Homo sapiens: one gene and its partners. The protein of the gene in region 1 purifies or fractionates together with the protein of each later gene. This does not show direct contact. Each region holds a gene or a part of one and is shown in the gene's direction. Other genes may lie near its edges. The genes, in order: FCSK, DNAJB8 and RNF123.

Region 1 (3,649 bases):
CCGAAGTGCTGGGATTCCGGATGTGAGCTACCACATCTGGCCATTTCAAGGGTTTCTTTCTTTCTTTCTTTCTTTCTTTTTTCCTCAGACAGGGTCTGGCTTTGTTACCCAGGGTGGAATGTATTGGTGCCAGTTTACTGCAACCTCTGCCCCCAGGGCTGAAACAATGCTTCCGCCTCAGCCTCCTGAGTAGCTGTGACTATAGGCACATTCACTGTGCCTGGCTAATTTTTGTATGTGTGTGGTTTTTTGTTTTTTTTTTTTTGGTAGAGATGGGGTTTGCCATGTTGCTCAGGCTGGTCTCAAACTCCTGGGCTCAAGCCATCCGCCTGTCTTGGCCTCCCAAAGTGCTGGAATTACAGGTGTGAACCACTGCACCTGGCCTCTTGCTGTCTTTCAGTGCCTTTGCTTGGGACCAGATATCATTATCACTATCACCTGAATAAGGATCCAAAAGACCCAGGTGTGTTGCAACTTTGACTATAGCGTCTCCTGGCCTCTGTGAAGTGGAGATAATAGGAGATAATAATACTTATCTTGCAGGGTCTAAGGGTGTTGTCAAGATAAAAAAAAAAAATCACAGCACCTTAACTGTGGTCCAGAGTGCTCAGTCCTAGTGGCTATTATTAATTTTTTTTCTTTCTTTCTTTCTTTTTTTTTTTTTTGAGACAAAGTCTCACTCTGTCACCCAGGCTGGAGTGCAGTGGAACAATCTCTGCTCACTGCAACCACCGCTTCCCAGGTTCAAGCGATTCTCCTGCCTCAGCCTCCTGAGTAGCTGGGATTACAGGCACCCGCCACCATGCCTGGCTAATTTTTGAATTTTTGGTAGAGATGGGGTTTCACCATGCTGGCCAGGCTGGTCTCAAACTCCTGACCTCAGGTGATCCACCCGCCTCGGCCTCCCAAAGTGCTGAGATTATAGGCGTGAGCCACCATGCCCGGCCTATTAATTTTAATTTTATTTTTTTTGAGACGGAATCTCACTCTGTCGCCCAGGCTGGAGTGCAGTGGCGTGATCTTGGCTCACTGCAACCTCCACCTCCCAGGTTCAGCCTCCCGAGTAACTGGGATTACAGGTGCCTGCCACCATGCCTGGCTAATTTTTGTATTTTTAGTAGAGACAGGGTTTACCATGTTGGCGAGGCTGGTCTCGAACTCCTGACCTCAGGTAATCTTCCTGCCTTGGCCTTCCAAAGTGCTGGGATTACAGGCATAAGCCACCATGCCTGGCATCCTAGTGGCTATTATTACTAAAATCATCCCTCCCTTGTATTTGTTTAGGCTTTGTCATAATTATAATAGATAATACATACTGAGTGCTTTACATATATTTCCTCCTTTTGTACTTCAGCTCTACAAAGTAGGTTTATTGTAGTGGTTAAGCAAGTGGACCCTGTAGTGGGGAGCATGAATTTAAAAATTAATTAATTAAATTTAAAAATAAATTAATAAAAAAAAAGGCTGAGGCAGGAGGATTGCTTGAGTCCAGGAGTTTGAGACCAGCTTGGGCAATGTGGCAAGACCCAATCTCTTAAAAAGAAAACAAACAGTGAAAACCTTAGCTAGGCATGGTGGCATGTGCCTATGGTCCCAGCTATACAGGAGGCTGAGGTAGCAGGATTGCTTGGGCCTGGGAGGTCGAGGCTGCAGTGAGTTATGATTGCACCACTACACTCCAGTCTGGGTGACAGATTGAGACCCTGTCTTTAAAAAAAAAAAAAAAAGTAAAAAAGACAATAAAAAAAGAGGCCGGGCATGGTGGCTCATTCCCAGCATTTTGGGAAGCCGAGGCAGGTGGATCACCTGAGGTCAAAAGTTTGAGACCAGCCTGGCCAACATGGTGAAACCCTGTCTTTACTAAAAATACAAAAATTAGTCAGGCGTGGTGGCACATGCCTGTAATCCTAGCTACTCGGGAGGCTGAGGCAGGGAGAATTGCTTGAACCCAGGAGGTGGAGATTACAGTGAGCTGAGATTGTACCACTGCACTCCAGCCTGGGGGATACAGTAAGACTCCATCTCAGAAAGAAAAAAAGGTAATAAAATAGATACTCTGGAAAAAAAGTTTAGTTTCAAACTTCACTCTGCCACTTGCTAGCTTTGGCAAGTTACTTCATCTCTCTGTGCCTCATTTCTCCGTCTTTTTTTTTTTTTTTTTTTGTAGAGTCCAGGTCTCTGTATGTTGCCCAGGCTGGTTTCTAACTCTTGGGCTCAAGCGATCCTCCTGACATGGCCTCCCAAAATGCTGGAATTATAGACATGAGCCACCACACCCAGCAGTTTCTTCATCTTTTTTTTTTTTCGAGATAGATTTTTGCTCTTCTTGCCCAGGCTGGAGTGCAATGGTATGGTCTCGGCTCACTGCAATCTCTGTCTCCCAGGTTGAAGTGATTCTCCTGTCTCAGCCTCCCAAGTAGCTGGAATTACAGGTGCCCACCACCACATCTGGCTAATTTTTGTATTTTTAGTAGAGATGGGGTTTCACCATGTTGGCCAGGCTGGTCTCAAACTCCTGACCTCAGGCAGTCCTGCCCCTGTCTCCCAAAGTGCTCGGATTATAGGCGTGAGCCGCCAACCACGTCTAGCCTCTTTTTTTTTTTTTTTTTTTTGAGACGGTGTCTCGCTCTGTCGCCCAGGCTGGAGTGGAGTGCAGTGGCGTGATCTCTGCTCACTGCAAGCTCCGCCTCCCGGGTTCATGCCATTCTCTTGCCTCAGCCTCCCGAGTAGCTGGGACTACAGGCACCCGCCACCACGCCCAGCTAATTTTTTGTATTTTTAGTAGAGACGGGGTTTCACTGCATTAGCCAGGATGGTCTCGATCTCCTGACCTTGTGATCCACCCTCCTCGGCCTCCCAAAGTGCTGGGATTACAGGCGTGAGCCACCGTGCCTGGACTTCTTTTTTTTTGAGACAGAATCTCGCTCTGTCGCCCAGGCTGGAGTGCAGTGGTGTGATCTTGGCTCACTGCAACCTTTGCCTCCTGGGTTCAAGTGATTATTCTGACTCAGCCTCCTGAGTAGCTGGGACTACAGGCACGTGCCACCACATCTGGCTAATTTTTGTATTTTTATTAGAGACGGGGTTTCACCATATTGGCCAGGCTGGTCTCAAACTCCTGACCTCGTGATCTGCCCGCCTTGGCCTCCCAAAGTGCTGGGATTACAGATGTGAGCCACTGCGCCCAGGTGGCAGTGCAGTTCTAAGCTGCCTGCCAGAGGAGTCTGGAATTTCACAGGAATAGGTCTGTTTCAGTGTCCCAGCTGTGCTCAGTCACTGGTTGTGAGAAGGTTCGTTCAAAGCGTGGCCTCCATGTAAACAAGGTGGGAGATTCAGATCGTAGCAGCTGGGGGCGTCTGTTAGTTACACTCCCTGCTGCAGCTGACCTGAGGGTTAGACGTGCCTACGGCCATACAGTAAATTGGTGGCAAAGTTGGAGGGAGGGCTTGGTGGGCATCCTGGGAGGAGCCTTCACCCTCAAGTGCCTGGCTGGGATCTCTAGCTGGAATTTCCCCTCTGGATTTCCCTGCTGGGCTGAGTAGGGAATGGAGCAATTTCTGACAGAGGCTTTTCCTGAAGGCGTGGGTGTTGCTGAGTGGTGGTGTCCTGTCAGCCTCTTCTCTTCTGGTGGCAGCAGAGCCTGGCACTG
Region 2 (4,107 bases), on another chromosome or scaffold:
TGAAGAGGGGAGGTGGCCTGACAGAATTGACGGTGGAGCGTGTGGGGCCTAAGTGTGCGCTCATGCCTGTGTGTCCCTGTCCCTCCAGCAGGCCCTATGGAGGCCTCAGAGCCCCTGATGCTCCCCACTGGCTCCCCAAAAACTGGCGTGGAAGGAGACTAGCCTGAACCCTTTGCAGAAGGGAAACTCCTCTGCACACTGCCCGGCTCCACGGTCCACAGCTCCCTTCATGGGGAGCTCCCCACAGGGGCCTCCATCTCAGGATGCCCTTGATGGTGAGGTGTGGGACCTGCTCCCAGGTGACACACCTGTTCCCGTAAGTCCTACCGAGTGGTCTGTTCTGTGTGCCCTAAGACAGCCCTGAATGGGCGGCAGTGAGGGGGTCTCCAGCCCTGTCTCCATCCTGGCTGACTCCCACAGACCCATCCCAGGAACAAGGGTTGGAGCAGGGCAGTGGCTGGAAGAAATTTCCCCTGGGAGTACAACGCAGACCAGAGCCAGGGTCTCCAACAAGGCAGGGAGGGCCAGGACGGGGAGGCGGCCACAGGATTCTTGGATGCCTCATCATACTAGGTCCTTTGTCTCTTAACATTGTTTTCACCACCCCTCCTCCACTGTCCTGATTCCATCGTCATGGAAACTTCAGGCTTCACCTTTACAATGTCAGGCCACCAACACCCTCAGCAGTGTCACCATCACCATCAACACCCCAGCGTCCCATCCCCATCTCCTCTACCACTGCCACCAGCCCCACTATCACTATCATCTCTGTCACCGTCACCACGGTGCTCTCCACCCGTGTCAGCATTGTGTCACCACCACATCACTGTCACCACACTTCCTCCACCTCCATCTCCACCCACCATCCCATCTGTGACATCACCTTATCAGCTCTGCCACCAGTATCAACCACTCACACCGCCTTTGCCATCACCACCGTCATTGCCCCCTCTACTACCACCACCATCACCACCACCGGGTCTGCCTCAGCCAGACCCACCACTGCCTCTAATTAGACTGCCACCATCATCACTGCCACCACCACTGCCCCTCCAATGCCTTCCTGATGTCACCATCTGCTTTCTCTCTGCTATCCTCACACCCAACTCCATCACAACCACCACCTTCATCTGAGCCGCCATCACCCTCACAGTACACAGCCCTCAAATGTGTACCAAGGAGGAGGACATTTACTACACGCTGCACCCTGAACAGTCTGGGACCAGCGGTCAGGGAACAAGGAATCGAGATGCTCACCTGCAGCTCCCAGGTGAGCGGCTCTCTAGAGCTTGCCTGGGAGCTGCTGAGGAGCTCACGGTATTCCAGGAAGCTCCCCATCCATGCCTCAGCCTGTGGCTCAGAAGCAGGGTCTTCGCAGAAGATTGCCCCGAGCTGTTGCAAAGCTCACCATTGTCACCTGCCTGCAACGGCCTCTCTTTTCCACTCTCCAAATCCCTTGTATTGGCAGGCTCTAGTCTGGAATTATACCGGTGATGGGATTCTGGAAAATCCCTCAGATTTCTCCAGGATGCAAGGAGACCATGGAAGAGGTTGGTGTAATGCCAAGTTAGCAACAGAAAATACAGAGCCCCACACCTCAGTGCCATCACCATCGCCATCGGCACTCACACCAGCATGTCCACCACTGTGTCCTTCTCACCCCTCGGCACCCCCCTCTACCATTGCCTCTTCCACAACCACCCTCACCACCATCCTCCATTAATAGCACAATTCCTGCCTCCTATCCCATCACCACCACGGGTGTCCCCGGCACCAGCAGCACCAACACTGCTCCCAGCAGAGCCATCGTTACCAGCCCCGCTGTCAGTCCCATCTTGAGCATCTGGCATATGTTGGAGAACTGCTCACTCCCTCTTCCCCATGGGAATCTCAGGCCTCTCTTCCTATTGCCCTGAGATTTGCAGAACCTTCCTGAAGGAAACATTCTTTGCCCCATGGATACTGGCCTTGACCATGGGATGCAGCAAGACTGCCACACATCATGGCCCAACAGAAGCTTTCAGAGGCAGCCCAAGTTCCTGCTGTCTCTGAGTGGCACTGTCATGAGAGAGGGGTGTGCAGGTCAGAGCTGATTCTCCAGCCTGGGACCCACAGTGAGAAGCTATGGGAGGTGGGGCCCTGGCAGCTGCCTGTAGGCACCAGTGAGTGAAGTGGGGGGAACTAGATGTTTGTCGTGAGCCACTGAGAGGTGGAAGCTGTCACTGTGGTATAGCCGAACAAGATACAACCTCTGCTACCTCCACCACCTTCACCTTCATCATCACCATTACTGTCACCACTGCCAACCACACCAATGGCTCACTAGGAGCCATTCCCATCACCTCCTCATCATACCTGCACCATCACTGCCAACCACAACAAAGGCTCGCTGTTACCATCTCCTCTGGCATGACCATCACCACCACCACTACCATCATCAATTACTCTCAAGCACAAGCCTTGCTGCTGTCACCACCAGCATCACCATCATCATGATCAACTCCACCATCACCCATAATTACTCTCCCCCTCACACCCACCATGACCATTACCTCCACATCAACACTGCTCCCATGGTCACCTCTACTATATAATGACACCTTATCCATCTCCATGGACACCCACCGTGCCTCTCCCCACCAGCAACACAGTCAACAGCAGTGCCTCTCCCACTGCCACCGCCATCATGGAGAACTGTGCAGGGCAAGCATCTTTCTCCCGCCCCAGGAACAAGCCTGCAAGGGACAGCAGGTGCTAACTGCTAACCGAGACATAGTGACAAAAATCCAGCCACAGAGATAAAGAATCAGGTTCATCTGTAGCTACATCCAGTGGAGAAGTTCTGCTCTTCAACTCCTCTGCTAAGCCACATGTGTCAGCAGGTGTAGGTGGGTGGATGCCCAGCATGGGGGTGCGAGTCGTGCTTTTGATAAGCTGCATGGAGGGACAGCGATGGTCACTGGAGGCTGGGTTTACAAAGTGTCTCTACAGTCTGTCTCCATTCCTCCTGGCATTTGGGATTGGTTAGAACACACACTGTCCCCTGCTAGGAGCCTGAAACCTAGCACCCATGAGCACTGAAAGAAAAGAGAGAGAGGGAGGATAATAGAAAGGGATGAAGACTAGAAAAAGGAAGAGGAGGAAGAAGGGAGGAATGAAGGAAGGAAGGAGGAAGGAAAGAAGCCAGGAGTGAAGAAGGGAGGGAAGGGAGAAGGGGGAAGGGGAGGGAGGAAGGAAAGAAAGAAGGAAGGAAGGAGAAAGGGAGGAAGGAAGGAAGGAAGGAAGGAGGAAATGAAGGAAGGAGGGGGAAGGGAGGGAGGGAGGAGGGAAGGAAGGCAGGGAACGGAAGGGAAGGGAAGGGAAAGAAGGAGGGAAGGAGGGAGGGAGGAAGGGAGGAAGGAAAGAAGGCAGGCAGGAAGGCTATCTTTAGTTAAGACTTGGTGACCCAAACATCTAGGCTCTTTATTGGTGTGGTTAGTAGGTGGTTTAGCATGGTTTTGATCTTAATTGGAGTGGGGTGAGGTGAAGGTAGGAACAGATATTAATCAGTATTGTGAATTGCTGTTTCTATATATGATCCAACACCAGAACAAGAATTAAAGGAATATAAATGCCTAAGAATATTTGGTTACCTCACTCACCTGATTCGTTTTCTAGGGCTGTTACAAATTATTACAAACTGGGTAGCTCAATACAAAAGAAATCTCTTCCCCCAGTTCTGGAGGCCAGAGGTCTGAAATCGAGGTGTTAGTGGGGCCGCACTCCCTCTGGAGGCTGCAGGGAGAACCCTCCTGGCCCCCAGCTTCCAGCTGCGTCAGTGTCCATCTCCTATACGGACATGTGTCACTGGATTTAGGGCCCACTCAGATAATCCAGGATGATCTCATCTCGACATCCTTAATTTAATTACATCCGAAAAGATCCTTTTTCCAAATAAGCTCACATTCAGAGGTTCCAAGGATTAGGATAGGAACATATCTTTTTGGGGGCCACCATTCAACCCACTACAGTCAGTAATCAATATTTATCATCAATTCCTATTTTTCTTACCAGAATTGAGTGGAACACTTCTTTGGATTTGCTGTCCGCTGCAGCCTTGGCCCTGGT
Region 3 (3,649 bases), on another chromosome or scaffold:
CCCGACCTGTCAGCAGATCCCTGGGTCTGGCAGCTGGGGGAGCAGCGGTTCTGGCATCAGGTCCCTGGGTGCTCTGGCCAGCGGCTCACAGACCCCCAGCTGGGCCTCACTTCCATGTCATGAGGGGACCACCATGGCCTTGTTCTGAGGCTGGCTCAGGGTCACCAGAGGGTCAGTGGCAGAAGAAGGTTTTGAAAAATGGAGCCCAATCCCTTGCCTGCTCCAGGCACTAGAGGGCCCTTCCTAGGCTGCCTGCAGGATCAGGGTGGACCTGGGTATGGGGCCATGTCTTGATTGTCCTCCTTTCCCCTTGGGTGGCAGAGGAAGGACATCCTTGCAGAGTTGACCAAGAGCCAGAAGGTTTTCTCAGAAAAGCTGGACCACCTGAGCCGCCGTCTTGCCTGGGTCCATGCCACTGTCTACTCCCAGGTGTGCTGGTATTGCAGCTGCCCCTTCCCGACCTCACTGTCTGGCCACGGGTCTAGCAAGATTGTGCCAGGGCCCTTGATGCCCCCACCCTCTCAGGCCTCTGGCACACACATGTCCCTTCCCACACTTCAGACTCCATCACCCCATGCCATGTCCCCTGTACCCCTCATGCTCTGTGGACTGAGGAAGCGCAGTTTCTGGACCTCCAGTTCGCCTCATAGACCTGTCCTTCGAGGAACAAACTCTGTCTGTCTGCCTCCCCTGCTCCCACCCCCTCCCAGTTTCTTGGCCCCCGTCCTTCTCTCCCAGTGCATCAGGGGCTCTGCAGTCTTTCCCGGAGGCACACTCCACCATCTGTGCCTGCCTCTGTCTGACTCATTACCACCCGAGGCCACTGGCTTGTTCCCCACTCACTCATTCACTTGCTCATTCATTCAATAACATGCACTCAAAACCTGGTGTGTGCCAGGTGCTGTCCTGGAACTAGGGACACACACACATTAATAAGTCAGAAAGATGAGCCTCTGCCTTCTGAAGGCACTCAGCCTGGTCAGATACATGGATGGACAGACAGATGGATGGGGCACTCCTGCTGTGACTGAAGTTTCACCCCCAGGCCTCAGACTCTCTGGACTTGTTTCCTCTCCCTGCCCCTCTTGGCATCTCTTCCCTAACCAGTGAGTGCCCTGAGGGTCTCTTCAGGTGCCCAGGTCAGGGTATCTGCTGTCTTCTTGGGCATACCCCTGCATGACTGGGTGATCGAGGCCTTTGGTATCCCCATTTCTATCATCTCTGCTTGCTGTTTCTTCTCATGGCTCTTTTGCAAAACCCAAACCACCTCCACCTTTTTCCCATTCGTGACTCTCCTGCTACCCTGGATGACCGTGCTTACTGCCCCATGACGGGAACTTCCTCTCCCTTCTGCCCTGAGATTTCCTGCCTGCCCACCTCCCTCAGAAGTTTGGCTGCCCTCTCCCACACTGTCTTCTCAAGACCCTTGCCCTCTCATCTCTCTGCCTTTTTTTAGTTATGCTAAAATATGTGTGACATAAAATGTACCATCCTAGCTGTGTTTTTTTTGTTTTGTTTTGTTTTGTGTTTTTTTTGAGACAGAGTCTCACTCTGTTGCCCAGGCTGGACTGCAATGGCATGATCTTGGCTCACTGCAACCTCTGTCTCCCGGGTTCAAGCAGTTCTCCTGGATTATAGATGTGCTACCGCGCCCAGCTACTTTTTGTATTTTTTGGTAGAGACAGGGTTTCACTTTGTTGGCGTGGCTGGTCTCAAACTCCTGGCCTCATGTGATCCTGCCACCTCGGCCTCCCAAAGTGCTGGGGTTACAGGCGTGCGCCACTGTGCCCGGTCACCCATCATAGCCATTTTTAAGTGTTAAGTCTATTCACATTGTCGTGCAGCCAATCTCCACACTCATTTCATCTTGCAAAACTGATACTCCGTGCCTGTTGAACAAAACCTCCTGTCCTCCCTTCCCCAGCTTCCCTGACAGCTCCCACCCATCCCCACCTGTCAGCAGATCCCTGGGTCTGGCAGCTGGGGGAGCAGTGGTTCTGGCATCAGGTCCCTGAGTGCTCTGGCCAGCGGCTCACAGACCCCCAGCTGGGCCTTACTTCCATGTCATGAGGGGACCACCATGGCCCTGTTCTGAGGCTAGCTCAGGTTGCCCCTGGCAACCACCATCCTACTTTCTGTCTCTGAATTTGACTATACTAAGCACCTCATCTAGGAAGAATCATACACTATTTGTTCTTTTGTGTATGGCTTTAGCATAATGTCCTCAAGGTTCATTCGTGTTATAGCATGTGTCAGAATTTCTTCATTTTCCAGGCTGAATAATATTCTGTTGTACGGACACCACATTTCATATATCCAGTCCTTTGCTGATGGACACTCGGGTTGCTTCTACTTTGGGCTACTGTGAATAATGCTGTAATGAACATGGGTTTGCAAAGATCTCTTTGAGACCCTAATTTCAATTCTTTTGGTTATATACCCAGAAGTGGAATTACTGTATCATATGGTAATTCTGTTTTTTATTTTATTTTTAATTTTAATTTTTTATTTTTTTTGAGATGGAGTCTCACTCTGTCACCCAGGCTGGAGTGCAATGGTGCGATCTCGGCTCACATCCTGGGTTCAAGTGTTCTCCTGCCTCAGCCTCCCGAGTAGCTGGGACTACAGGTGCGCACCACCATGCTCGGCTAATTTTTGTGATTTTTTTTTTCTTTTTTTGAGGTGGAGTTTTGCTCTTCTTGCCCAGGCTGGAGTGCAATGGCGCGATCTCGGCTCACGGCAGCCTCTGCCTCCCAGGTTCAAGCAATTCTCCTGCCTCAGCCTCCTGAGTAGCTGGGATTACAGGCATGTGCCACCACGCCCAGCTAATTTTGTATTTTTTTTTTTTTGAGACAGAGTCTCACTCTTTCACCCAGGCCGGAGTGCAATGGCGCTATCTCAGCTCACTGCAAGCTCCGCCTCCCGGGTTCACACCATTCTCCTGCCTCAGCCTCCCGAGTAGCTGGGACTACAGGCGCCTGCCACCACGCCCGGCTAATTTTTTGTATTTTTAGTAGAGACAGGGTTTCACCGTGTTAGCCAGGATGGTCTCGATCTCCTGACCTCGTGATCCACCCGCCTCGGCCTCCCAAAGTGCTGGGATTACAGGCGTGAGCCACCGCGCCTGGCCTAATTTTGTATTTTTTTTTAGTAGAGATGGGGTTTCTTCATATTGATCAGGCTGGTCTTGAACTCCCGACCTCAGGTGATTCGCCCGCCTCGGCCTCCCAAAGTGCTGGGGTTACAGGCGTGAGCCATCGCGCCCTGCAATTTTTGTATTTTTTGTACAGATGGGGTTTCACCGTGTTGGTCAGGCTGGTCTTGAACTGCTGACCTCAGGTGATCCGCCTGCCTCGGCTTCCCAAAGTGCTGGGATTGCAGGCATGAGCCACCGCGCCCGGCCAATTCTGTTGTTTAATTTTTTGGAAACTACCATATCATTTCTACAGTGGCTGTGCCTGTTACATTCTCACCAGTAGTGCATGAGGGTTCCAATTTCTCCATACATATCCTTACCGACACTTCTTATTTTCTGCCCTTTTTTTTTCTTGGTAGACGCAGGGTCTCACTATGTTGCCCAGTTGTCAAACTCCTGGGTTCAAGGAATCCTCCTGCCTCGGCCTCCCAAAGTGCGGGGATTATAGGCATG

Evidence for each region.
Region 2: the proteins of FCSK (region 1) and DNAJB8 purify together in Homo sapiens (co-immunoprecipitation; one large-scale study listed by IntAct). This does not show direct contact.
Region 3: the proteins of FCSK (region 1) and RNF123 purify together in Homo sapiens (affinity purification with mass spectrometry; one large-scale study listed by BioGRID and IntAct). This does not show direct contact.

The regions. Positions count from the first base shown.
Region 1 is NC_000016.10:70,457,513-70,461,161, forward strand, and holds part of FCSK (L-fucose kinase), read left to right. Parts: intron 1-3,649.
Region 2 is NC_000003.12:128,464,057-128,468,163, reverse strand, and holds the start of DNAJB8 (dnaJ homolog subfamily B member 8), read left to right. Parts: upstream 1-1,273; 5' UTR 1,274-1,550; intron 1,551-2,727; 5' UTR 2,728-2,888; intron 2,889-4,050; exon of another isoform or gene 4,051-4,053; 5' UTR 4,054-4,107. UniProt on the Homo sapiens protein: Efficient suppressor of aggregation and toxicity of disease-associated polyglutamine proteins.
Region 3 is NC_000003.12:49,706,470-49,710,118, forward strand, and holds part of RNF123 (E3 ubiquitin-protein ligase RNF123), read left to right. Parts: intron 1-321; coding exon 322-429; intron 430-3,649. UniProt on the Homo sapiens protein: Catalytic subunit of the KPC complex that acts as E3 ubiquitin-protein ligase. Promotes the ubiquitination and proteasome-mediated degradation of CDKN1B which is the cyclin-dependent kinase inhibitor at the G0-G1 transition of the cell cycle.